2 separate regions of the Homo sapiens genome follow, and region 2 is linked to region 1. The links come from fine-mapping of genetic effects on gene expression. A gene starts in region 1. The other region holds a variant in brackets. All regions are shown on one strand. Distances are between the middles of the regions.

Region 1 (11,634 bases):
GCAGGAAGTCTAATATTCCCTGTGGTGCCTACAGGACATACAGGGAACGATGCAGGAGAAGAAATCATCAGAGAGATCACAGGAGAAAAATGTCCTGAGCTAAAGGAAGATTCACACGTCCAGACTGAAGCCAAGGGGTTGAGCTCCAAGGAGGATGAACGGAAAAAGCAAACCAAAGCCCCTTTAGACACTTGGGAGCTCCTGGTCTCAGACAATGGGTGACAGCGCCTTAGCTCTTTACTACATGCACTCAGGGGAATCCTCTCTTTGCCCAAAGGCTTCCCTTGTCTTCAAAGCCTCTGAGGTAGAAAAGCCACGGCTGCTTCCTCCAAGGGCTTCTCCTCCTTAGAGAACAAAGGCCTTCCTGGCCCCTCTGGCCGGTCCTCCAGTTCACAACCTGTGACAGCCCAGGAGAATGGCCACAAATAACCACCGTACCAGGCAGGATAGGAGGTCACAAAAGCCCTACACACTGGCTGTGGCTCCTGGGCACCTGTGCTGTGGGGACAGAGATGAAGGAGCCACCATCCCTGTCCTCAAGGAGCTCTGAAGCTGGTGGGAAAGGCGGCCTGTGCTACCCAGAAGCCCTGGGGCCAGAAGCCTGAGTTCTAATTTTGCCTTTAAGAGAACATTCTGCCCTGAACTGGGAGGGAGGCGGGTGGGGGCCATGTGCTCCACCCCTTCCTGTCTCTTGTGTCTGCCCTACCCCTCGATTGTTCTCTAGGCACCTGCTAGCTCCTGGGCAGAGGCTGACCCTGTTCAACGCCCACCTGCTGAGCCACTCTGTGCCAGGCCCAGGGGTGTGGTGGGGAACCCAGGGAAGGAGCAGCCCTGGTTAAGAAAAGCACACAGACAGAAGTGCTGGCACACAGATGGGTGAGTGAGGGGTGGGTGCGAGAAGCCTGCAGGACTTCCCTGCTGTTGCCCTCAACTCTCCTCCCTGGTCCAGCAAGGCATCCTGAGCAAGTCCAGATCCTGCCTCTGCCCACTCAGAACTCCCCATCCTGTCCCCTGGCCCAGCCCGGAAGGTTGAGCCCACCACAGCCTCTGCCTTAAGCTCCTGCAACAGCGGGGCCCTTCCCAGGCCAATCTCCATCCAGTCCATTCCTGTGGCCAGGGAGACATTTCTAGAATGTAAATCTGAGCCAGGCGCACCTCAGTTTAAACCCGGCTATGGCTCCCACTGCCTTCGGGATGGAGCCCCAGTTCCCAGGAGGGCCTCGCTGGAGCTCCCAGCCACAGATGCTCAGGACGGTGTTCCGGGCAGGGACCTATCTGACAGCCGCTCCGCCCGCCCCACACCCTCCTCAGATAAGGGGCTGCCCAAGTGCACTCTCGGGGTGTGGTGGATGGAGGCCTGGCGCAGCAGGGCTATTCTCGGGGCGCCTCGGGCCTGGTCTCAGACAATGGGTGACAGCGCCTTAGCTCTTTACTACATGCACTCAGGGGAATCCTCTCTTTGCCCAAAGGCTTCCCTTGTCTTCAAAGCCTCTGAGGTAGAAAAGCCACGGCTGCTTCCTCCAAGGGCTTCTCCTCCTTAGAGAACAAAGGCCTTCCTGGCCCCTCTGGCCGGTCCTCCAGTTCACAACCTGTGACAGCCCAGGAGAATGGCCACAAATAACCACCGTACCAGGCAGGATAGGAGGTCACAAAAGCCCTACACACTGGCTGTGGCTCCTGGGCACCTGTGCTGTGGGGACAGAGATGAAGGAGCCACCATCCCTGTCCTCAAGGAGCTCTGAAGCTGGTGGGAAAGGCGGCCTGCGCTACCCAGAAGCCCTGGGGCCAGAAGCCTGAGTTCTAATTTTGCCTTTGAGTCTTGCTGAACCACCTCGAAATCCCTTCCTCTACCAAGCACAGGGTCCCTCCTCTGTGAATCGGGAGGGCTGTCCTGAGGACTAAATGCAGTCAACACTGTGCAAGTACTGCACAGACGCCCTCAGGAAACGGGAGGCCTGTCTGGTTCAGAGGAACCCTTTTGGGCCAAAGAGAAGGAATGGAGAGAGGAGGTGGGGCCAATAAAGAGAAAGGACTGAGGAAGCCGTTTCTCATGACAGGCCCCCTGAAAAACGGGGCTCCCCAGGAGGAAGGAGTGAGGGGAAACGATGCAGTTCTCACCCCTAGCTGCAGCGAGAGCCACCTGGGAGCTTTCTGAGGCCTGACACTCAGGCCTCACCCCAACCGGGTTCGTCAGAGTCTCTGGTGTGGGACTCCAGCATCGGAATGTAGTGGCAGCTGGGTAGGGAACCCCTGCCCAAGGTCCCAGGCACATTCGTGTGCTCTGAAAGGCTGGTGGTGAGCAGAGCTGAGTAAGCCAGTTTCCCACACTCGCTTGACCACAGAAACCCATTAAAATCCTTCCCAGGGCAAATGCTGGGAAATGCAAGTGAGAGTTTACAGCACAGGCTTTGGAAGTGGGAGGCCTGGTCGCGCTCCTGACTCTGCCACTTGAGAGCAAGGAACTCCGTCCATCAAAGCCTCCGCCGCCTCATCTGTAAATCGGGGAGGACCATGCCAACCTCTCTGGGTCATCAGAAGATCAAATGAAATCAAGAGTGAGAAGCCATGAGTGCACACAGGAAGCACTCATATGAGGGGAGGGAGGGAAGAGCTAGCACTGCTCATAAGCCAAATGAATCCCAGTCCCCACCCATCCCCACCTGCCACGGCACAGGCTCTGCATTCACCTCCTCAACACGTCCACACTGAGGACCCACTACGAGCCAGGACATCCAGTGGTCATCAATACACACCCAGGCCCATCCCGCACAAAGTACACTCCGGCTGGGGGAGACGCATGTGAATTAAAGGATCATACAGATACACAATTCAGACGCATCCTGGCAGGGCGTGCTGGCTCACACCTGTAATCCCAGGTGTGAGTTTTTGGGAGGCTGAGGCCAGAGGATCGCTTGGGCCCAGGAGTTCAAGGTCAGCCTGGGCAACATTGTGAAAACCTATCTCTACAAAAAATTTAAAAATTAGCAGGGTATGGTTGTGTGCACCTGTACTCCTAGCTACTCAGGAGGCTGAGGTGGGAGGATCACTTGAGCCCAGGAGTGTGAGGCTACAGTGAACTATGATCATGCTACTGCACTCCGGCTTGGGTGACAGAGCAAGACTCTCTTTAAAAAAAAATCAGCCGGGCGTGGTGGCTCACGCCTGTAATCCCAGCACTTTGGGAGGCCGAGGTGGGCAGATCATGAGGTCAGGAGATCGAGACCATCCTGCCTAACACATTGAAACCCCGTCTCTACTAAAAATACAAAAAAAAAAAAAATTGCCAGGCGCGGTGGCTCACACCTGTAATCCCAGCACTTTGGGAGGCCAAGGCAGGCAGATCACAAGGTCAGGAGATCGAGACCATCATGGCTAACACAGTGAAACTCTGTCTCTACTAAAAATACAAAAAATTAGCCGGGCGTGGTGGCAGTCACCTGTAGTCCCAGCTACTCGGGAGGCTGAGGCAGAAGAATGGCGTGAACCCGGGAGGCAGAGCTTGCAGTGAGCCCAGATCGCGCCACTGCACTCCAGCCTGGGGGACAGACCGAGACTCTGTCTCAAAAAAAAAAAAAAAAATTAGCCGGGTGTGGTGTCGGGCACCTGTGGTTCCAGCTACTCGGGAGGCTGAGGCAGGAGAATGGCATGAACCCGGGAGGCGGAGCTTGCAGTGAGCCGAGATCGCGCCACTGCACTCCAGCCTGGGCGACAGAGCGAGACTCCGTCTCAAAAAAAAAAAAAAAATCAAATACATCCTTATTGAGTATGATGAAGCCTACCAAGAAAAAAGTGCGAGAGGGAGACCAGGAGAATGTATAAAGGAGATCCAAATTTGACTGGGGGCTCAGGGAAGGCATCCCTGAGGAAGGGATTGTTACGCTAAGATCTGAAGGATTAATAGTTGTTAGCATGGTGAAGATGTGACAGGTGGAATGGGCTGGGAGAAGGGAGCAGGCTCATTTCACAGGAGAGCGGAAAGCACTGGACCAGGGCAGAGGAGGGGCCACGTGAGAAAGGTATTTAGACTGACTGGGCAGAGCCTGGGGGAGGGCTGCAGGTGAGGGAGACAAGGCAGGTGTTGGGACTCCAGGGTTTCTCGTTTGAAAGCCAGGAAGGATATGGAGTGTTGGGACATTATTACCCACCCCCAGGCTGATGCATACTCCCTGGGCCATGCTGTATCTTCCTCATAGCAGTTACACAATGTACCAGACACTTTACTCATTTACTTGTCTGTCTCCTCCAATGATGACAAAGCTCCAAGAGTCCAAAAATTTTTGATGGTTCACTGAGTAATCCCCATGTTTTTTTAGAGACAGGGTCTCACTCTATCACCCAGGCTGGAGTGCAGTGGCATGATCATAGCTCACTGCAGCCTTGAACTCCTGGGCCCAGGCAATCCTCCCACCTCAGCCTCCCGAGTTCTTGGTAGTATAGGCATGTGTCATCACGCCCAGCTAATTTTAAAAATTTCTTGGCCAGGCACAGTGGCTCACACCTGTAATCCCAGCACTTTGGAAGCCCGAGGCGGGCAGATCACGAGGTCAGATCAAAACCATCCTGGCTAACATGGTGAAACCCCATCTCTACTAAAAATACAAAAAAAAAAAACAAAATTAGCCGGGTGTGGTGGCAGGCACCTGTAGTCCCAACTACTCAGGAGGCTGCGGCGGGAGAATTGCGTGAACCCAGGAGGCGGAGCTTGCAGTGAGCCAAGATTGCGCCACTGCACTCCAGCCTGGGCGACAGAGCAAGACTCTGTCTCAAAAATAAATAAATAAATAAAAATAAAAATTTCTTTTAGAGGTGAGGTCTTGCTATGTTGCCCAGGCTAGTCTTGAACGGTGGGCCTCAAGTGATCCTCCCACCTCTGCTTCCTGAGTACCTGGGATTACAGGTGCAAGTCGCCACATCTGGCTAAATGCATTTTTGATTTATGATGTTTTAAACTTATGACAGGTTTGTATCTGTATATCGAGATGGTAACAAGCAACATCCTCCCTGGGGCTTCTAACCCTGGAAGGAAACCAGAGCCAATAAAAATGTCTTACATGGCCAGGTGCGGTGGCTCACGCCTGTAATCCCAGCACTTTGGGAGGCCGAGGCGGGTGGATCACAAGGTCAGGAGTTCGACACCAGCCTGGCCAAAATGGTGAAACCCCGTATCTACTAAAAAAAAAAAAAAATTGGCCGGGTGCAGTGGCTCACGCCTGTAATCCTAGCACTTTGGGAGGCCAAGATGGGCAGATCACGAGGTCAGAAGATGGAGACCATCCTGGCTAACAGTGAAAACCCGTCTCTACTAAAAAAAATAATAATAATACAAAAAATTAGCCAGGTGTGGTGGCGCCAGCAGCGCTTGTGGTCCCAGCTACTTGGGAGGCTGAGAAGTGGGATGATCGCTTGAGCCCAGGAGGTCGAGGCAGCAGTGAGCCATGACTGCATCACTGCACTCCAGCCAGCCTGGGCGACCGAGCAGGATGCGCGTGCGCGCACACACACACACACACACACACACACAGTCCCGGGCCAGTCACGGTAGTTCACGCCTGTAATCCTAGCACTTTGGGAGGCCCAGGCGGGAGAATCACTTGAGCCTAGGGGTTCAAGACCAGCCTAGGCAACATGGCAAAACCCCATTATCTCTTTTTTTTTTTTCCTGAGACAAGTCTCGCTCTGTCGCCTAGGCTGGAGTGCAATGGCACAATCTTGGCTCACTGCAACCTCCGCCTCCCAGGTTCAAGCCATTCTCCTGTCTCAGCCTCCCGAGTAGCTGGGATTACAGGTACCCGCCATCATGCTCGGCTAATTTTTGTAGACACGGGGTTTCACCATGGCCAGGCTGGTCTTGAACTCCTGACCTCAGGTGATCCGACGGCCTCGGCCTCCCAAAGTGCTGGGAGCTACAGCGCCCAGCCGGCATATTTCATTTTATTATTTGACTCCCCTAGTGAAATGTAAGCTTCACAAGGAAGGGATTCTGTCTTAGAACGGTGCCTGGAATACAACAGACGCTCAATAAGTGGGTGTCGAATAAATAAATGTCCCACGCTGAGGCTTAGGTACGTTATGATACTCATTTTACAAAAGAGAAAACTAGGACACACAAAGATTAAGTCATTGGGTCGCACACCTAGTAAGTGGGGGAGGCGAGTCCTCAGCACACGCCCAATAACAGCATTATTATGATTACTAGCCGCTTACTCAGGCCTTGAGCTAAGTGCTTTACCCTGAATCATCGCGCTCAATTTAGCAATAACCCCGAGCCGGCACCGTCGCGAACGCCACTTTCCAAAGGAGGAAGCCAGGGCCAGACGTTGCCCTGCAAGGCCGGGGCTGGGCCGGGTTCGAACCCGGACGCCTGACGCGCCCTCCGCTCTCCCAGAGGCGTTACCTTGGTGGCCCCCGCTTCCTCCCCACGGAGCCCGGCGCTCACCCCCGGGCCGGGGTCGGGGTCGTGAGCCCACAGCTCAGCCACCATCTCCGTGTGAAGAAACTCAAACAACACAGTATCCGCCATGCCCCCTCCTCGCACGCCTAAAGATGCGCCCAGCGCTTCCAGCTCTCATTGGCCAGGCTTGGTAAGCCACGCCTCTTGCGTCATGGCGCGAGCCCTCCTACTCCGGCTTCCATTGGTGTTTTAGACTAGCCCCGCCTCCCCGCCCCGGACTCAGGTGGTGTGCGCGTGAGCCTGGGACACTAGGGGGCGGGCCTACGCCTTCTCTGGCCACATGTGGCAACATCTTCTGCTCTTACTGCCGTCCCTTCCCTATTTCCGGGTTCTCGAGCATTCCTATTGGCCAAATTACTGGTTACACGTGACATACTCGGCTTTTAAAATCCCTATTGGTCCACTCCAGACTTTCCTCGTCGCACAACCTGGAAGAGCCGGCCCAGCTGTTTCTCTATTGGCGGTTCCTCCATTCATGTGACTCTTCTGCACGCTCACTCAAAGCTGATGCTGAGAACTTGCTTCCTGATTGGTAGCCGGGCGAATCCACGTGACTTGGCCGCTAATGCCCGCCCAACCCGCTCCCCTATTGGTTGAAATCACAGCCCTTCAGCTGCCACGGTGAGAACGCAGCACTCGGGTTAGGAAGCGGATCTCGCAAGCTCCGAGCGTCAGCTGCCGGGTACGGTCTTTGGCGTTAGCGCTTCTCCCATCCCATGAGTGCCCCCAGCAGAGTCCAGTCGGACTGTCATCCTTTCTGCGACTCTGGCGCTGGTCCCGAGCAGCTCACGGGCCCGTGTGCTTCCGGGTCTGAGATTGGCATGGTGGACCAGGTGGAGGGTGTGGCCTCTACTAGGAGGCAAATTCGTAAAGACCTCGGCTTGGGACTCCGGGAACTCGGGCCCCAGATCCTTGTTCGAGCTGGTCTTCAGTTTCCCCATCTGTACGCTGAAGAGCCTGGGGTCCAGTAACCCCCATCATCACCCAGTTTACAGAAGAGGAAACTGAGGCCCAGACGGGGAGCAGCTGACACCAAGTCGTTAAGAGAATCAGCGAAGGGGCTGGGAATCCAGGACCTGCGCCTTTTACCCACCGCGGCGCCGGTCTCACGTGCAGTCCCTTCGCTCTTCTCCCCTAGTTCGGTGCCATGGCGTCCCAGGGTCGTCGGCGGAGGCCCCTGCGGAGGCCGGAGACGGTGGTGCCGGGGGAGGCGACCGAGACGGATTCCGAGCGCTCTGCGTCCTCGTCGGAGGAGGAGGAGCTGTACCTGGGTCCTTCGGGCCCGACGCGCGGCCGCCCCACGGGGCTGCGGGTGGCTGGGGAAGCCGCGGAGACCGACTCGGAGCCGGAGCCGGAGCCGGAACCGACGGCCGCGCCGAGGGACCTGCCTCCACTCGTGGTGCAGCGGGAATCGGCGGAGGAGGCCTGGGGCACGGAGGAGGCCCCGGCGCCCGCCCCCGCGCGCTCGCTCCTGCAACTTCGGCTGGCGGAGAGCCAGGCGCGGCTGGACCACGACGTGGCGGCCGCCGTGAGCGGTGTCTACCGCCGTGCAGGCCGCGACGTGGCCGCCCTGGCTAGTAGGCTGGCGGCAGCCCAGGCGGCGGGGCTGGCGGCGGCCCACAGCGTGCGCCTGGCGCGCGGGGACCTTTGTGCGCTGGCCGAGCGTCTGGACATCGTGGCTGGCTGCCGCCTGCTGCCGGACATCCGCGGCGTGCCAGGGACCGAGCCTGAGAAAGACCCGGGGCCGCGGGCCTAGCCATGATTCTACTTCCCAACCTGACTGCAATTTGGGGGTAGGCCTTGCTGCCTCTGGGACCTGACTCTGTCTCCTGTGTCTCTTATCACCCCCCACCCCCGCTCCCATCTTGGTGTCACCCATGGGGGCTAATCCGGTCCCCTTGGATAATGCTTTATATTGGATATAGTTCAACCCCTACTGCGGAGACCAGGGCCCCACTATCCTTAGATCTGGTTCCTCTCCCGATCCTGACCCTGCCGCCTGGTTCTGAGCCTTCCCCTGGGGCTTGGCTCCAGCCTTTGTTACATAGTTGCTCCTTAATCTGTTTCCACCCTGGGGGCTCACCAATTTTTTTTTTTTTTTTTTTTTTTTGGAGACAGGGTGTTTATCTGTCACCCAGGCTAGAGTGCAGTGGCGGGATTACTGCTCACTGCAACCTCGACCTCCTGGGCTCAAGTGATCCTCCCAGCTCAGCCTTCAAGAGTAGCTGGGACTGCAGACCTGCACCACCACGTCCAGCTGCCCGGTTAATTTTTTTCTGTCGGTTTGAAGAGGGGAGAAGGTCTCACTATGTTGCCCAGGCTTGTCTCAAACTCCCGGGCTCAAGCAATCCTCCCACTGTGGCGTCCCAAAGTGCTGGGGTTACAGGTGTGAGCCACCACACACTGGGCTCTGCTCTGCCTTTCTGAGTTTGGTTTCTGCTTATGGTGGGGAGCTTGTTCCCGTTCTTCCCACAAGAACCCAGGATGTGGCACAGCTTCCCTGCCGTCTTCCTTCACTCAGTTGGCTACGCCTCCCATCCTAGCTCCACTTCCAGAACTGCCTTCACCCTAGGCTGGGTCCTTGTTTTGTTTTTAGAGACAGGGTCTCACTGTGTCTCCCAGGCTGGAGTACAGTGGCGTGATCTCGGCTCACTGCCACCTCCACCTCCCGAGTTCAAGCGATTCTCCTGCCTCAGCCTCCCGAGTAGCTAGGATTACAGGCATGCACCACCACGCCTGGCTACTTTTTATATTTTTAGTAGAGATGAGGTTTCACCTTGTTGGCCAGGCTGGTCTCGAACTCCTGGCCTCAGGTGATCCACCCGCCTCACCTCCTAAAATGCTGGGATTACAGGCGTGGGCCACTGCGCCTAGCCAGCTGGGTCCTTGTTCTGCTGCCCAAGCTTGGCCCTGGTTCCGTGTGCTGGTTCTACTTTTTGTTCTCCCATCTGCCTCCTGCCTCCTCCCCTTTGAGCTTAGCCCCGCCCTCTCAGCCTGATTTCTGTTTCCCAAGTCCAGCAGTGTCGTGGGATAGGTTTTGCTTTCTTTTACTGTCTCCATCCTACTTACACCTCCCTGATCCTGGGGTCTGGGGACTCCCCATGGTTTCCTTCCTTCTGCAGGCCCAAAATGATGGCCCCTCTTAACCCAAGGCAGGGGATCTTCCTCCCAACTCCCTGGACCAAGGTGGCATTTCCTGCACACCCCTCCAGGCCAAGATGATGCTCGCTCTCAACTCTGTAGGCCAAGGTGGCGTCTCCTCTTGACTCTCCAGACCTAAAGTGACACCCTTCAGGCACTTCGGGCCCAATTCAGCCCAGTCCTGGTGCTTTCAGCGCCAGATGACAGCACTTTGCAGATAAGAACGATATGATGTGTGGATTTCACTACATTTGGCTCCTGGATGCTATAAAAGGACTTGGATTTCTGACTTGGCTCAGGGACTGGGGTTAGCAGTCTCTTTCTGCTCCTTTTCACCTGTGTTTTCTTCCGATCCCAGCTCTGGTCCCTCAGCCGCATTCATATTTACTCTCCTCTCCCAGCCTGATATCCCTGTCCCTCATCTCAACCCGAAGCCAAGATCTGAGCCCCCAAGATGGAGAATGGGGAGGAGCTTTTTATGGCGGACTGATTAAAACTCTTAAGCATTTACCCTTATGGTTAGTTCCTTTTGTTTCCCTATCTAAGCTAAGGGTGAGTTGGTTGATTTCTCTGAGAATGGGGGTCCCGAGACCTCCATGCCTGGCTTATGGAAGGTGAAGCTGTAGTTGGGAAATCAGGGGCCCTAGATTTTTGCCCTGGTTCTGTATTTACTCGTATTTTATTAATTCAACACACACGTTTTGGGTACCTGACCTGTGCTGCGGCTAGGGGTATAGCACCCAGTCCCTGCCCTCACAGAGGTCGCAGTCCAGTGGGAGAAACAGTAATAAGATGTTCTCATAGATAGTTCTAGTAATCATAATTTATAGTTTAATTTTTAAAAATAGAGATGATAGCCTGGCCAACATGGTGAAACCCTGTAGTTATTAAAAATACAAAAATTTTGGGCGATGTATCACGCCTGTAATCCTAGCACTTTGGGAGGCCGAGGCACGTGCTAGTAATTCCAGCTACTCAGGGAGCTGGGGCATGAGAATCGCTTGAACCCTGGAGGCAGAGGTTGAAGTGACCCAAGATCGTGCCACTGCACTCCAGCCCGAGCGACAGAGCAGGACTCTGTCTCAAAAATAAATAGGCCAGGCGCAGTTACGCATGTCTTTAATCCCAGCACTTTGGGAGATCGAGGTAGGCAGATCACCTGAGGTCAGGAGTTCTAGACCAGCCTGGCCAACATGGTGAAACTCTATCTCCACTAAAAATACATTAGCCAGGCGTGGTGGCACATGCCTGTAATCCCAGCTACTCGGGAGGCTGAGGCAGGAGAATCGCTTGAGCCCAGGAGGTGGAGGTTACAGTGAGCTGAGATCATGCCACTGCACTCCATCCTGGGTGAGAGTGAGACTCCATCTCAAAAATAAATAAAAAATAATTAATTTTAAAAAATAAAATAGAGACGAGCTCTCACAATGTTGCCCAAGTTGGTCTTGAACTTCTGAGCTCAAGGGATTCTCCTGTCTTGACCTCCCAAAGGGCTAGGATTACAGGCATGAGCCACTGCACCCAGCCATAATTTATAATTTAGATACAATTTTCTTGGCACCATGATTAGAGCCATGAAGAAGTAAAGGAGCTTTATGAAGGTGGAGCGGGATCCACCTGACCTAATCTGGGCGGGAGAGAGGAAGTGATGAGTGGTGCTGGAGCTGAGCCCGGAAGGTGGAAGTAGGTGAAATGGGAGTAGGGTGAAGAGTTGCAGACAGGGAGAACAGCATATGCGAGGGCCCTGAGGCAGAAGGGAAAGGGACCATAACCTGTTTAACAGAAGAAGATGATTTCTGCTCTCCACCTAGAATGGAGAAGTGTGGGGTGGTTGTGGGGCAGGGGGGTGCTGAGTGCAGTACCAGAAGGGGCCAGATAAAGGTGAGCTTTAAAAAAATTGTATTATTGGCTGTGCGCAGTGGCTCACGCCTGTAATTCCAGCACTTTGGGAGGTCGAGGCAGGCAGATCACCTGAAGTCAGGAGTTCGAGACCAGCCTGGCCAACGTGGTGAAACCCTGTCTCTACTGAAAATATAAAAATT
Region 2 (11,634 bases), 400 kb after region 1:
CCATCCCCCAGGCCAAGTGATACGGTGTGGCTGTGTCCCCACCCAAATCTCATCTTATATTCACACGTCTCACTAAAAATACAAAAAATTAGCTGGGCATGGTGGCACATGCCTGTAATCTCAGCTACTCGGGAGGCTGAGACAGGAGAATCACTTGAACCCAGGAGGTGGAGGTTGCGGTGAGCTGAGATCACGCCACTGCACTCCGGCCTGGGCAACAAGAGCGAAACTCTGTCTCAAAAAATAAACAAATAAAATGAATAAATAAGTAAATAAACATGTACAGAGTACTTGAGGGCCAGGTACAGTTCTATGTTTTATGGATCTTAATATCCACATAACAACCCAATTACAAGCATAAAACTGAGGCCCAGAGAGGTTAAATAACTCTCCCTGGGGTCACACAGAAAGTGGCAGAGCGGGGACAGATAAGCAGGCAGCCTGGTTCGAGGCCGCGCTGCAAACAGTAAACAGTAAACACTGTTTACTGAATGGTGCTGAGGGAACATCAGAACTATGAGGTTAAGTGCTATTCGGTACAGAAAGGCAGAGGGACTCATGCAGGACACACACCACGTAAACAGCAGGGCAAGGATCTGAGTGCACGAAGTCTTTATCTAGAAGCAGAGGTTTTGGCACTTGGGCAGTAATGACAAGAAGGGATTCCGGCTGGGTGCGGTGGCTCACGCCTGTAATCCCAACACTTTGGGAGGCCACAGCGGGCGGATCACTTGAGGTCAGGAGTTGGAGACCAGCCTGACCAACATGGTGAAACCCCGTCTCTACTAAAAATACAAAAATTAGCTGGGCGTGGTGGCAGGCGCCTGTAATCCCAGCTACTCAGGAAGGCAAAAGCCTGGGCAACAAAGTTAGACTCCATCTCAAAAAAAACAAAGGGGGCTGGGCGCAGTGGCTCACGCCTGTAATCCCAGCACTTTGGGAGGCTGAGGCGGGCGGATCACGAGGTCAGGAGATCGAGACCATCCTGGCTAACATGGTGAAACCCCGTCTCTACTAAAAATACAAAAAATATTAGCTGGGCGTGGTGGCGGGCGCCTGTAGTCCCAGCTACTCGGGAGGCTGAGAGGCAGGAGAATGGCGTGAACCCGGGAGGCGGAGCTTGCAATGAGCCAAAATCGTGCCACTGCACTCCAGCCTGGGCGACAGAGCAAGACTCTGTCTCAAAAAAAAAAAAAAAAAAGAAAAAAAAAACGGATTCCATGTATACCCCCTGTAGCCTGTAGTAGCAACCAGATGGGCATGTCCCGGGCCAGGGCTCGCCTATCCACTATCCTGCTGCATCCTCACAAGAATCCTGGGAGATAAGTTCTATTAGTATCCCATTTGATAAATATGGAAATGGAGGCTCATAGAGGTCAAGCTGCCTGCTCAAAGTCACATGGCTAATAAGCAGCAGTGCCAAGATCCGAAGCCAAGAGTGCCTACTCTGTGGCAGACTGTGCCATCAGGGACCCCTTCGTATCACACCCTGTGCAGTTCTTTCCCACACCCACTGTGGTCTGTGCCTGGAGCTGCTTTGACCAATAGTGTGGTGGAAATGACGCTGGAAGATTCCAGGCCTTGCCCTTAAATAACCTGCAGCTTCTGCTTCTTCCCTCATGAAAATCTGGCTGTTGGGGAGTCCTGAGCAGCCATGTGAGATATTCAGCTACCCTGCAGGAAAGACCACGTGGAGAAGAGAGGCCCAGAGGCTACGCTGAGAGGGAACCAACTCCCCAGTCCCAGTGCCAGTTCCAGATGACTCCAGCCCAGCCACCTCCACCTGCACCTGGATGAGAGCCTGCCAAGCAGCAACCAGCAAAAGAACTGTCCGGCTGAGCCCAGGCAAGCCACAAAGGTAACAGAAACTAAGAGTGACTGGGTTTTTTGTTTGTTTGCCTTTTTGAGACAGGGTCTTGCTCTGTTGCCCAGGCTGGAGTGCTGTGGCACGATCTCGGTTCACTGCAGCCTCCACCTCTCTCAGGTTCAAGCGATTCTCCTGCCTCAGCCTCCTGAGAAGCTGGGACCACAGGTACCCGCTAAATTTTTGTATTTTTAGTAAAGAAAGGGTTTTGCCATGTTGCCCAGGCTAGTCGCGAACTCCTGGCCTGAAGTGATCCACCCACCTCAACCTCCCAAAGTGCTGAGATTACAGGCATGAGCCACTGCACCTGGCTAAGAGTTACTACGGTAAGCCACCAAGCTTTGGATCAGATGGCTATGTAGAAAAAGAAAACTGAAACCAAGTCCATGGCCTAAATTCATAAGAATGGCCACAGAGCTGAGCACTTCTGAAAAAATGACCTCAGCAACCTGAATGAATGATCATGGTGTATCTGTTTCCCACGGCCACTATAACAAACTACCACAAATGCAGTGGCTTAAAACAGCACAAATTATTATTATTATTTGAGACAGGGTCTTGCTCTGTCACCCAGGCTGGAGTGCAGGGGTGCGGTCACAGCTCACTGCAGCCTCATTCTCCTGGGCTCAAGCAATCCTGCCGCAGCCTCCTGAGTGGCTAAAACTATAGGCATGCATCACCATGCCCCACTAATTGTTTTTTATTTTTAGTAGGGACAAGGTCTCGCTTTGTTGCCCAGGCTGGTCTTGAACCCCTGGGTTCAAGTGATCCTCCTGCCTCGACCTTCTAAAGTGCTGGGATAACAGGCATGAACCACCGCACCTGCCCTAAATTTATTATTTTACAGTTCCAGAAGTCAGAAGTCTGAAATGGGGGCCAGTTGTGGTGGCTCACGCCTGTAATCCCAGCACTCTGGGAGGCCAAGGCGGGTGGATCACCTGAGGTCAGGAGTTGAAGACCAGCTGGCCAACATGGTGAAACCCCCGTCTCTACTGATAATACAAAAATTAGGGCATGCGCCTGTAATCCCAGCTATTCAGGAGGCCAAGGCAGGAGAATCGCTTGAAACCGGGATGCAGAGGTTGCAGGGAGCTGAGATCATGCCACTGTAATCCAGCCTGGGCGACCATGTGAGACCCCCTCTCAAAAAACAAAACAAAACAAAACAAAAAACTGGGCGCAGTGGCTCACGCCTGTAATCCCAGCACTTTGGGAGGCCAAGGCAGGTGGATCACCTGAGGTCAGGAGTTCAAGACCAGCCTAGCCAACATGGTGAAACCCTATCTCTACTAAAAATACAAAAAATTAGCCAGGTGTGGTGGTGGGTGCCAGGTGTGGTGGTGGGTGCTACTCAGGGGACTGAGGCAGGAGAATCGCTTGAACCCAGGAGGCAGAGATTGCAGTGAGTTGAGATCGTGCCACTGCACTGCAATCTGGGCAACAAGAATGAAACTCCATCCCCCCCCCCCCAAAAAAAAAAGTCCAAAATGGCTTTCACTAGGCTAATCTCAAGGTGTCCGCAGGGCTGTGTTCCTTTCTGAAGTCTCCAGTGGAGAATCCATCTCCTCGGCTTTTCCAGCTTCCAGAGGCTGCCCGCATTCCTTGGCTCATGCCTCCCTTCCTCCATCTTCAAGGCCAGCGGGGCAGCATCCCTCAAATCATTCCCTCTCTTGCCTCCCTCTTTCCCTTATAAGGACCCCTGTGATCACACTGACCTGACCTGCATAATTCAGGATCATCTCCCCATCCCCAAATCCTTCATTTGATCACATTTGCAAAGTCACCTTTGCTGTGCATGGTAACATATTCAACAGGTTCTTGGGATAAGGATGTGGACATCTTTGGGGGACCAGTCACTCTACTGCCTACTGTGTGTGATAAACCAGAAAAAGGACCAGTGCGCGCCAAAGGAATAAACACAGATGAGCTGGAATTTTCCTACTGCCCAGAGATATCTCACAGCCTCCCTGGGAGCACCAAAAGTGCACTTTGCAGGCATGGCCTCAACCTGCCTAACATCACCAACCTCCTTTACTTTTGGGTTAAAATAATTTAAACAAAGGAATTCTGTGTTTAAAAAGATCTTTGCCTCCCCAACAGGGTGCATCATCGATGATTTATGCTTCTAGCATGTACTGTTCTTTCCTCAGGCAGCCACAGCTACTGCTCCAGCCTCTCCTGTGAGACAGCTGGGCGCAGCCTGCTGAGTCAAAAGTATCTCAGCCAAAGGTACAGATACTGGATTTGCTGGTCAGCTCAGGACGCCTGACCTGAGAGAAAGCAGGGCCGCCAGTGCACCCTGGGAAATTCCAATCACCATGGCTGGGGGCCACAGCAAAGGGCAATCAGCAGTGTGAAGACACTAATGATGTAATTAAAAGGTGTAAATGTAAGAAGCCAGTACATTGCAATATCTGGTAGCATCTCCAACTCGACCTGTCCCTAACTGAGCTCCAGGTCTTTCTGTCCAACCTGCCCCTCCTCCAGTCGGCTGTCTCACACCCAATCCATGGGAAATCCTGCTGGCTCTACCTTGTAAACAAATCTACTGGTTATTCATTACTAAGAGGAAAAGGAAAGGTTCTTGACATGGTTACACCTTAACCAAGCGATCCAAATCACCATCACAAATGACAGAACAAATAGACCTCAGGAGTCCCCTGAAGGGATGTCCTTAGGAGGCACCTCGAGTCTGTGGTGTTCCCGCCAAACATGTTCAACATGAATCCAATCGGGGAAGCAATCAGGAGACTCCAGACATCGGGACACACTATCAATCAGAGGACTGGCTCCAATGTCAATGTCAAAAAACAAGGGCAGGGATACTATTCTAGAGCAGGGTCAGAAAACTCTTCCTGTAAAGGGGCAGAGAGTAAATATTTTAGATTTTGAGGCCAGGCGTGGTGGCTCACGCCTGTAATCCTGAAACTGCCTTTGCAAAATTATGACTGACACAGCAAAAGAGATCTAACTTGACTGACTCCATCTTACTTCCAACCTCCAAGCTGTCCTTGTTCATTCCTGAGTGAAGGCTGAACTAACTTTGGGAGAAACTTAGTTTATAGTTTAAACAAACATGGTAACAGCCCTTTCCCAAAGCAGACCTCCTTCTTGCCTGGTGACTAGATTGCCTTTGTAGGACTAACATTAGCCACAAGATTAGAAATTATGGTTTAGGAGTCATGCAGCTGGAGGATACAAGATTCTGACCCTCCCTAAACTGCTCCTAAGATCAGTGCTTGAGATATTCTGCAGACTCTGCACTTGATGGATCAGCTGGCCCCACCCAGATCAAAAAATTGGCTCATCTGATCTTGTGCCCGCCCTCCCCCTCCCCCACCGCCACCCAGGAACTAACTGAGCACAAGACATCTCTGAATTCCTATGATTTCATCTCTGACCAATCAGCACTCCTGGCTCACTGGCTTCCCCTCACCCACCAAGTTATCCTTAAAAACTCTGCTCCCGGGCCAGGCGTGGTGGCTCATGCCTGTAATCCCAGCACTTTGGGAGGCCAAGGCGGGCAGATCTCCTGACGTTGGGAGTTAGAGACCAGCCTGATCAACATGGAGAAACCCCATCTCTACTTAAAATACAAAATTAGCCGGGCGTGGTGGCGCATGCCTGTAATCCCAGCTACTCGGGAGGCTGAGGCAGGAGAATCACTTGAACCCGGGAGGCGGAAGTTGTGGTGAGCCAAGATCACACCATTGCACTCCAGCCTGGGTGTCGGAGTGCGACTCTGTCTCAAAAAATAAAATAAAATAAAATAAAACAGAACTCTGATATTGTCCTTCTGCTGCACAGAACCCTCCAGTAAGTCCTGTTCCACTCAGAGTAAAGCCAAGGCATTTGCAGTGACCCACAGGCCCCATACAAACTGTCCCCCTTTCCCGTCATCAGTTTCCTCTGTCCTGTGTGCCAGGCACGCTCATGCCTCAGGTCCTGTGTGCATGCGGGATCCTCTGGGCTGGAACGTTTCTTCCCCCAGATGGCAATGCTGCTCGTTCCCTCCCTCCTTGGCATATTTTCAGTGAGTTCTCCCTGACAATCCTATCTAGGCTTATAGCCTTCCTTTAAATACTCCTTGTTCTACAACCCTGATTTTTTTCCTAGAGCAATTATTGCTATCTAATATACTTCATCTTTTAACTATTTTTTGAGATGGAATCTCACTCTGTCACCCAGGCTGGAGTGCAGTGGTGCAATCTCGGCTCACTGCAACCTCTGCCTCTTGGGTTCAAGTGATTCTCCTGCCTAAGCCTCCTAAGTAACTGGGATTACAGGTGCCTGCCACCACACCTGGCTAATTTTTGTATTTTTAGTAGAGATGGGGTTTCACCATGTTGCCCAGGCTGGTCTCAAACTCCTGACCTCAAGTGATGCACCAGCCTCAGCCTCCCAAAGTGCTGGGATTACAGGCATGAGCCACTGGGCCCAGCCAACTATTTATTTCATTTATTGTCTGGCTTCCTCCACAAGAATGTAAGGTACCTGAGGGCAAGATGTTTTGCTTTTTCCTGCCTGTTGTATCTATAACATCTACGTGACAGCCATGACCCTATGCCAGGCACTGACTTAACATTTTATATCCATTTACTTAATCCTCACCACAACACAATAAATATTATTTACAGCATAATGCATACATAGTATATACACAAAATAATAATAATAATAATAATAGTATCTACCTCATCATAACTGGTGAGGACCCAGTGCCAGAGGCTGGAAGGTGCTGCAGACAAGCCGTGGCACAAAGTACAAGCCCAGTTAATGTGACCATTACATAATACCCAATGTACAGAATCGGAAATTGAAGCTAAGAGGGGCTAAATGACGTACCCAAAGTCACCAGTCTGGGTAGGGATTCAAACCTATGTCAGTCTGACTCCAGAAGCCATTTTCTTTC[TTTTTTTTTTTC/T]TTTTTTTTTTTTTGATATGGAGTCTCGCTCTGTCACCCAGGCTGGAGTGTAGTGGCACGATCTCGGCTCACTGCAACCTCCGCCTCCCATGTTCAAGTGATTCTTCTGCCTCAGCCTCCCGAGTAGCTGGGATTACAGGCGCGTGCCACCACGCCCAGCTAATTTTTGTATTTTTAGTAGAGAAGGGGTTTCACCATGTTGGTCAGGCAGGTCTTGAAATTTGACTTCGTGATCTGCCCACCTTGGCCTCCCAAAGTGTTGGGATTACAGGCGCGAGCCACTGCACCCGGCCTTTTTTTTTTTTTTTTTGAGACAGAGTTTCACTCTTGTTGCCCAGGCTGGAGTGCAATGGCGTGATCTCGGCTCACTGCAACCTCCACCTCCTGGGTTCAAGCGATTCTCCTGCCTCAGCCTCCCGAGTAGCTGGGATTACAGGCATGCGCCACCACGTCTGGCTAATTTTGTATTTTTAGTAGAGACGGGGTTTCTCCATGTTGGTGAGGCTGGTCTCTAATTCCCGACCTCAGGTGATCTGCCTGCCTCGGCCTCCCAAAGTGCTGGGATTATAGGTGGGAGGCACCGCGCCCAGCACAGAAGCCTATTTATTTATTTATTTATTTATTTATTTATTTATTGAGACAGAGTCTCGCTCTGTCGCCCAAGCTGGAGTGCAGTGGTGTGATCTTGGCTCACTGCAACCTCTGCCTCCCAGGTTCAAGCAATTCTCCTGCCTCAGCCTCCCAAGTAGCTGGGACTACAGGTGTGCGCCACCACACCTGCCTAATTTTGTATTTTGAGTAGAGACAGGGTTTCACCATGTTGGCCAGGCTGGTCTTGAACTCCTGACCTCATGATCCACCCACCTCCGCCTTCCAAAGTGCTGGGATTACAGGCATGAGCCACTGCGCCCAGCTCCAGAAGCCATTTTCTAAACCACAACGCTAAGAATGTCACAGTGTTTGGAAGACAGGCAGAGACAGGAAACAAACTGGGTCTAGGAATTCAGTGTCCAAAGTTTCGCCTCTGGCACAAATCTCTGCGTATGACCTGAGCAATTAACTGCTGCCCTCAACACCTCCATTTTCCCTTCTATAAACCAGAGGAAGTCATTCCTCTTTCCGGACATGGGGACAAAACAGTTGTGGGGGTCAAATGAGATGGCTAACAGGAAAGCACTTTGGTAACTGTGAAATCTAATACTTTCCCATTCTAAGAGCTGCAGCCCCAACAAAGACCCCACCAAACACCGAACAACCAAGAATTCCGGGCCCTGGAAAGCAAACTTTAAGCATCCAAACTTACAGAGGGGGAAAAAAAGTGCACTCCCTTAATCATGTGGGCTTTGTGTGTGCTCCTCCCTCTGCCCCAGTGCTTTCCTTACGCCTTGTCCTGGTGTTGTCCTCACCCTTCAGGTCCCAATTCAGATGTCTCCTCTGCCAGGAAGCCCTCCCTGAACCCCATGCCATGTCAGGTGCCCAGTGGGCTCCCCCATCTCAGCTCTGCCCACTGTTGGGGGATACGTCTGTCCCCCGCAGGACTAGGAATTCCTTGAGGGCACAGATTGGTGCTGGTTTGGTCCCTGCTGTTTCGCCAGCATTGCCAGCACAAGGCCTGGCACAGGGCAGAGGCTCACAAAATACCAGCTAAAGGAAATAATGAATGGATGGAGGGATGAATGGTGTGTAACCGCCCAAGGAGTTCACCTTGCCCGCTGCCTAGACAGAGCTGATTCATCAAGAGAGGAGAACTGCAAGACAAAGAGTAATTCACGCAGAGTTGGCTGTGCGGGAGGGTGTTTTGTTTGTTTGTTTGAGATTGAGACAGTCTTGCTCTGTTGCCCAGACTGGAGGGCAGTGGTGCAATCTCGGATCACTGCAACCTCTACCTCCTAGGTTCAAGCAATTCTCCTGCCTCAGCCTCCTGAGTAGATGAGATTACAGATGTGCGCCACCACACCCAGCTAATTTTTGTATTTTCAGTAGACACGGGTTTTCACCATGTTGGTCAGGCTGGTCTCGAACTCCTGACCTCATGATCCACCCACCTCGGCCTCCCAAAGTGCTGGAATTACAGACGTGAGCCACCGCGCCCCAGCCAGGAGTCTTACCATTACTCAAATCAGTCTCCCTGAGCATTCAGGGAGATTTTATTTTTATTTTATTTTATTTTTTTTTTTTGAGATGGATTTTCACTCTTTCGCCTGGGCTGGAATGAAGTGACGCGATCTTGGCTCACTGCAACCTCCATCCCCGGGTTCAAGCGATTCTCATGCTCCAGCCTCCCGAGTAGCTGGGATTATAGGCGCCCGCCACCAAGCCCGCCTAACTTTTGTATTTTTAGTAGAGACGGGGTTTGACCATGCTGGCCAGGCTGGTTGCAAACTCCTGACCTCAGGTGCTCCACCCCCCTCAGCCTTCCAAAGTGCTAGGATTACAGATGCGAGCCAATGGGCCCAGCTGGAGCAGAGTTTTTTTGTTTTTTGTTTTTGTTTTGAGACGGAGTCTCGGTCTGTCGCCCAGGCTGGAGTGTAGTGGTGCGATCTCGGTGGAGCAGAGTTTTTAAGGATAACTTGATGGGTGAGGGGAAGCCAGTGAGCCAGGAGTGCTGATTGGTCAGAGATGAAATCACAGGGAGTCGGAGCTGTCTTCTTGCGCTCAGTCAGTTCCTGGGTTGGGGGGCCACAAGATCAGATGGGCCAGTTTATTGATCTGGGTAAGGCCAGCTGATCCATCAAGTGCAGGGTCTGTGAAATATCTCAAGCACTGATCTTAGGAGCAGTTTAGGGAGGGTCAGAATCTTGTACCCTCCAGCTGCATGACTCCTAAACCATAATTTCTAATCTTGTGGCTAATGTTAGTCCTACAAAGGCAATCCAGTCGCCAGACAAGAAGGAGGTCTGCTTTGGGAAAGGGCTGTTACCATGTTTGTTTAAACTATAAACTACAAACTAAATCTCTCCCAAAGTTAGTTCAGCCTTTGCCCAGGAATGAACAAGGATAGCTTGGAGGTTAGAAGCAAGATGGAGTAAGTTAACTTAGATCTCTTTCGCTGTGTCAGTCATAATTTTGCAAAGGCGGTTTCAGTGGTTCTCTGACCCAGCCAATGATGCTAAATTCCCTTATTTTATGTCCCACGTAGCACAACACAGATCACCTTTTTTTTTTTTGGAGACGGAGTCTTGCTCCGTCACCCAGGCTGGAGTACAGTGTTACGATCTCGGCTCACTGCAAGCTCCGCCTTCCGGGTTCACGCCATTCTCCTGCCTCAGCCTCCTGAGTAGCTGGGACCACAGGCGCCCAGCCACCACGCCCGGCTAATTTTTTTGTATTTTTAGTAGAGATGGGGTTTCACCGTGTTAGCCAGGATGGTCTCCATCTTCTGACCTCGTGATCTGCCCACCTCGGCCTCCCAAAGTGCTGGGATTACAGGCGTGAGCCACCGCGCCCGGCAAGATCACCTTTTTAAAGTAGTTTATATTTTGGGTGTTTACTAAGCCCTTTATTTCTATTTATTATTTTTTGAGACAGTCTTGCTGTGTCGCCCAGGCTGGAGTGCAATGGCACAATCTAGGCTCACTGCAGCCTCCACCTACCAGGTTCAAGCGATTCCCCTGCCTCAGCCTCCCAAGTAGCTGGGATTACAGGTGTGCGCCACCACACCCAGCTAATTTTTGTATTTTTAGTACAGACCGGGTTTCACTATGTTGGCCAGGCTGGTCTCGAACTCCTGGCCTCATGTGATCCGCCCGCCTCGGCCTCCCAAAGTGCTGGTATTACAGGTGTGAGCCACCGCGCCGGACCTTACTATGCCCTTTAGATCTGAGCTCGGGCGGCCCCCTCTAGGCAGCCCTGCTGGCCTCAGGTCCCTGGGTCAGCCAGTTCCTCTGAGCTCCGGGGCTCCCACTTTCCCGACCACTCTGGGTTGACAGTGATGGATCAGGAGTATATCTCCCAGTGCTGAGCAAAAAGGCCGCATAGTCTGTCAACCGAATGAAAGGACGGCGTATGAGCGCATTAATGAGTACACAGATGAATGTCCTCTCTGGCTCAAAGTCCTTTTCCGGATTCCCAGGCCATGTCTCCAGAACCCAGACTTCACCCCCGAACCATGCCCCTAATCCAGACTTATTGACTACAGTAAAACTGAGGCACGTCGACGTCCTAAACGGAGGATATACAAGCACCTCCTAGATCAGTGGGGAAACTGAGGCACACGGTGCCGCTTTTGAAATGAAGTTGCCCAAGGACAGCCGGGCAAAGGACCCCGTCCGGTTTCTCCTCAGCCCCTCCCCTAGCTCCTCTATCCTGGAAAGCCCCGTCCAAATTTCTCCCATCTCTCACACTATTGGTTTAACAGGGCATCAGTCTCCAAGCGCTCTCTTCCTTTATCGGCTGGCATTTCCTACTCGCGTGGTGGCTCCTTGACCCGCCCCTTACGCCCCGCCCCGCCCTCACTACTGGGCCACCCGTACGCCCCTCTATCAGAAACCCCCCACTATTGGCCACTGGACTTTGCCGGTTCGGGCTGTGATTGGTCGTAGACAGAAGTCCATCCCCTAAGCAACCACCTGACAGGGGTTGGAGAAAGGAAAAAGGTTGGAGGGAATTCGGGTCAGACTCACGTTGAGCCGGCGGGAGGCAGATATAGGTCTTGAAGAACTCGCTTCGGCGGGCGGCCTCCTTAATACGGTTGGCAAGCGGCTTGCTGACCTGCCGGATGCCCAAGTATAGCAGCTTCGCCATAGGGAACGCGCCCACCACCATCTTGGCGGTCTCACAGGGCACGCGCAACCTTGCTGACTGGGCGGGGCGCCTCAACCTCTTCACTCCTCCCCCGCCCTCTCGTG

Direction of the effects. Alleles are on the strand shown, and positions count from the first base shown. SD is a standard deviation of normalised expression in the study named.
With allele T in place of TTTTTTTTTTTC in region 2, the expression in monocytes of the gene that starts at base 6,539 in region 1 is lower (large effect, 1.2 SD a copy in BLUEPRINT).

The links. PIP is the estimated chance that this variant, and not a neighbour inherited with it, causes the effect. A credible set is the group of variants that fine-mapping cannot tell apart.
Region 2: its variant is the best candidate, but not a certain one, in a credible set for the expression of TRAPPC6A in monocytes (BLUEPRINT, PIP 0.75).

The regions. Positions count from the first base shown.
Region 1 is chr19:45,171,699-45,183,332 of GRCh38, forward strand. It overlaps TRAPPC6A (trafficking protein particle complex subunit 6A), which reads right to left and starts at 6,539. Exons shown (of 6, transcript NM_001270891.2): 1 at 6,437-6,539. The coding sequence starts at 6,520. BLOC1S3 (biogenesis of lysosomal organelles complex 1 subunit 3) reads left to right here and starts at 7,086. Exons shown (of 2, transcript NM_212550.5): 1 at 7,086-7,133; 2 at 7,590-10,102. The coding sequence starts at 7,599. The coding sequence ends at 8,207. RefSeq lists enhancers at 5,917-6,860, 6,873-6,942, 7,013-7,332, 7,873-8,373, 8,799-9,300 and silencers at 6,293-6,512, 7,683-7,992.
Region 2 is chr19:45,573,214-45,584,847 of GRCh38, forward strand. It overlaps OPA3 (outer mitochondrial membrane lipid metabolism regulator OPA3), which reads right to left and starts at 11,589. Exons shown (of 2, transcript NM_025136.4): 1 at 11,410-11,589. The coding sequence starts at 11,551. RefSeq lists enhancers at 4,049-4,684, 4,162-4,311, 7,762-8,262, 8,762-9,697, 9,698-10,633 and 1 more. The variant TTTTTTTTTTTC/T (reference allele first, on the strand shown) is at 6,777.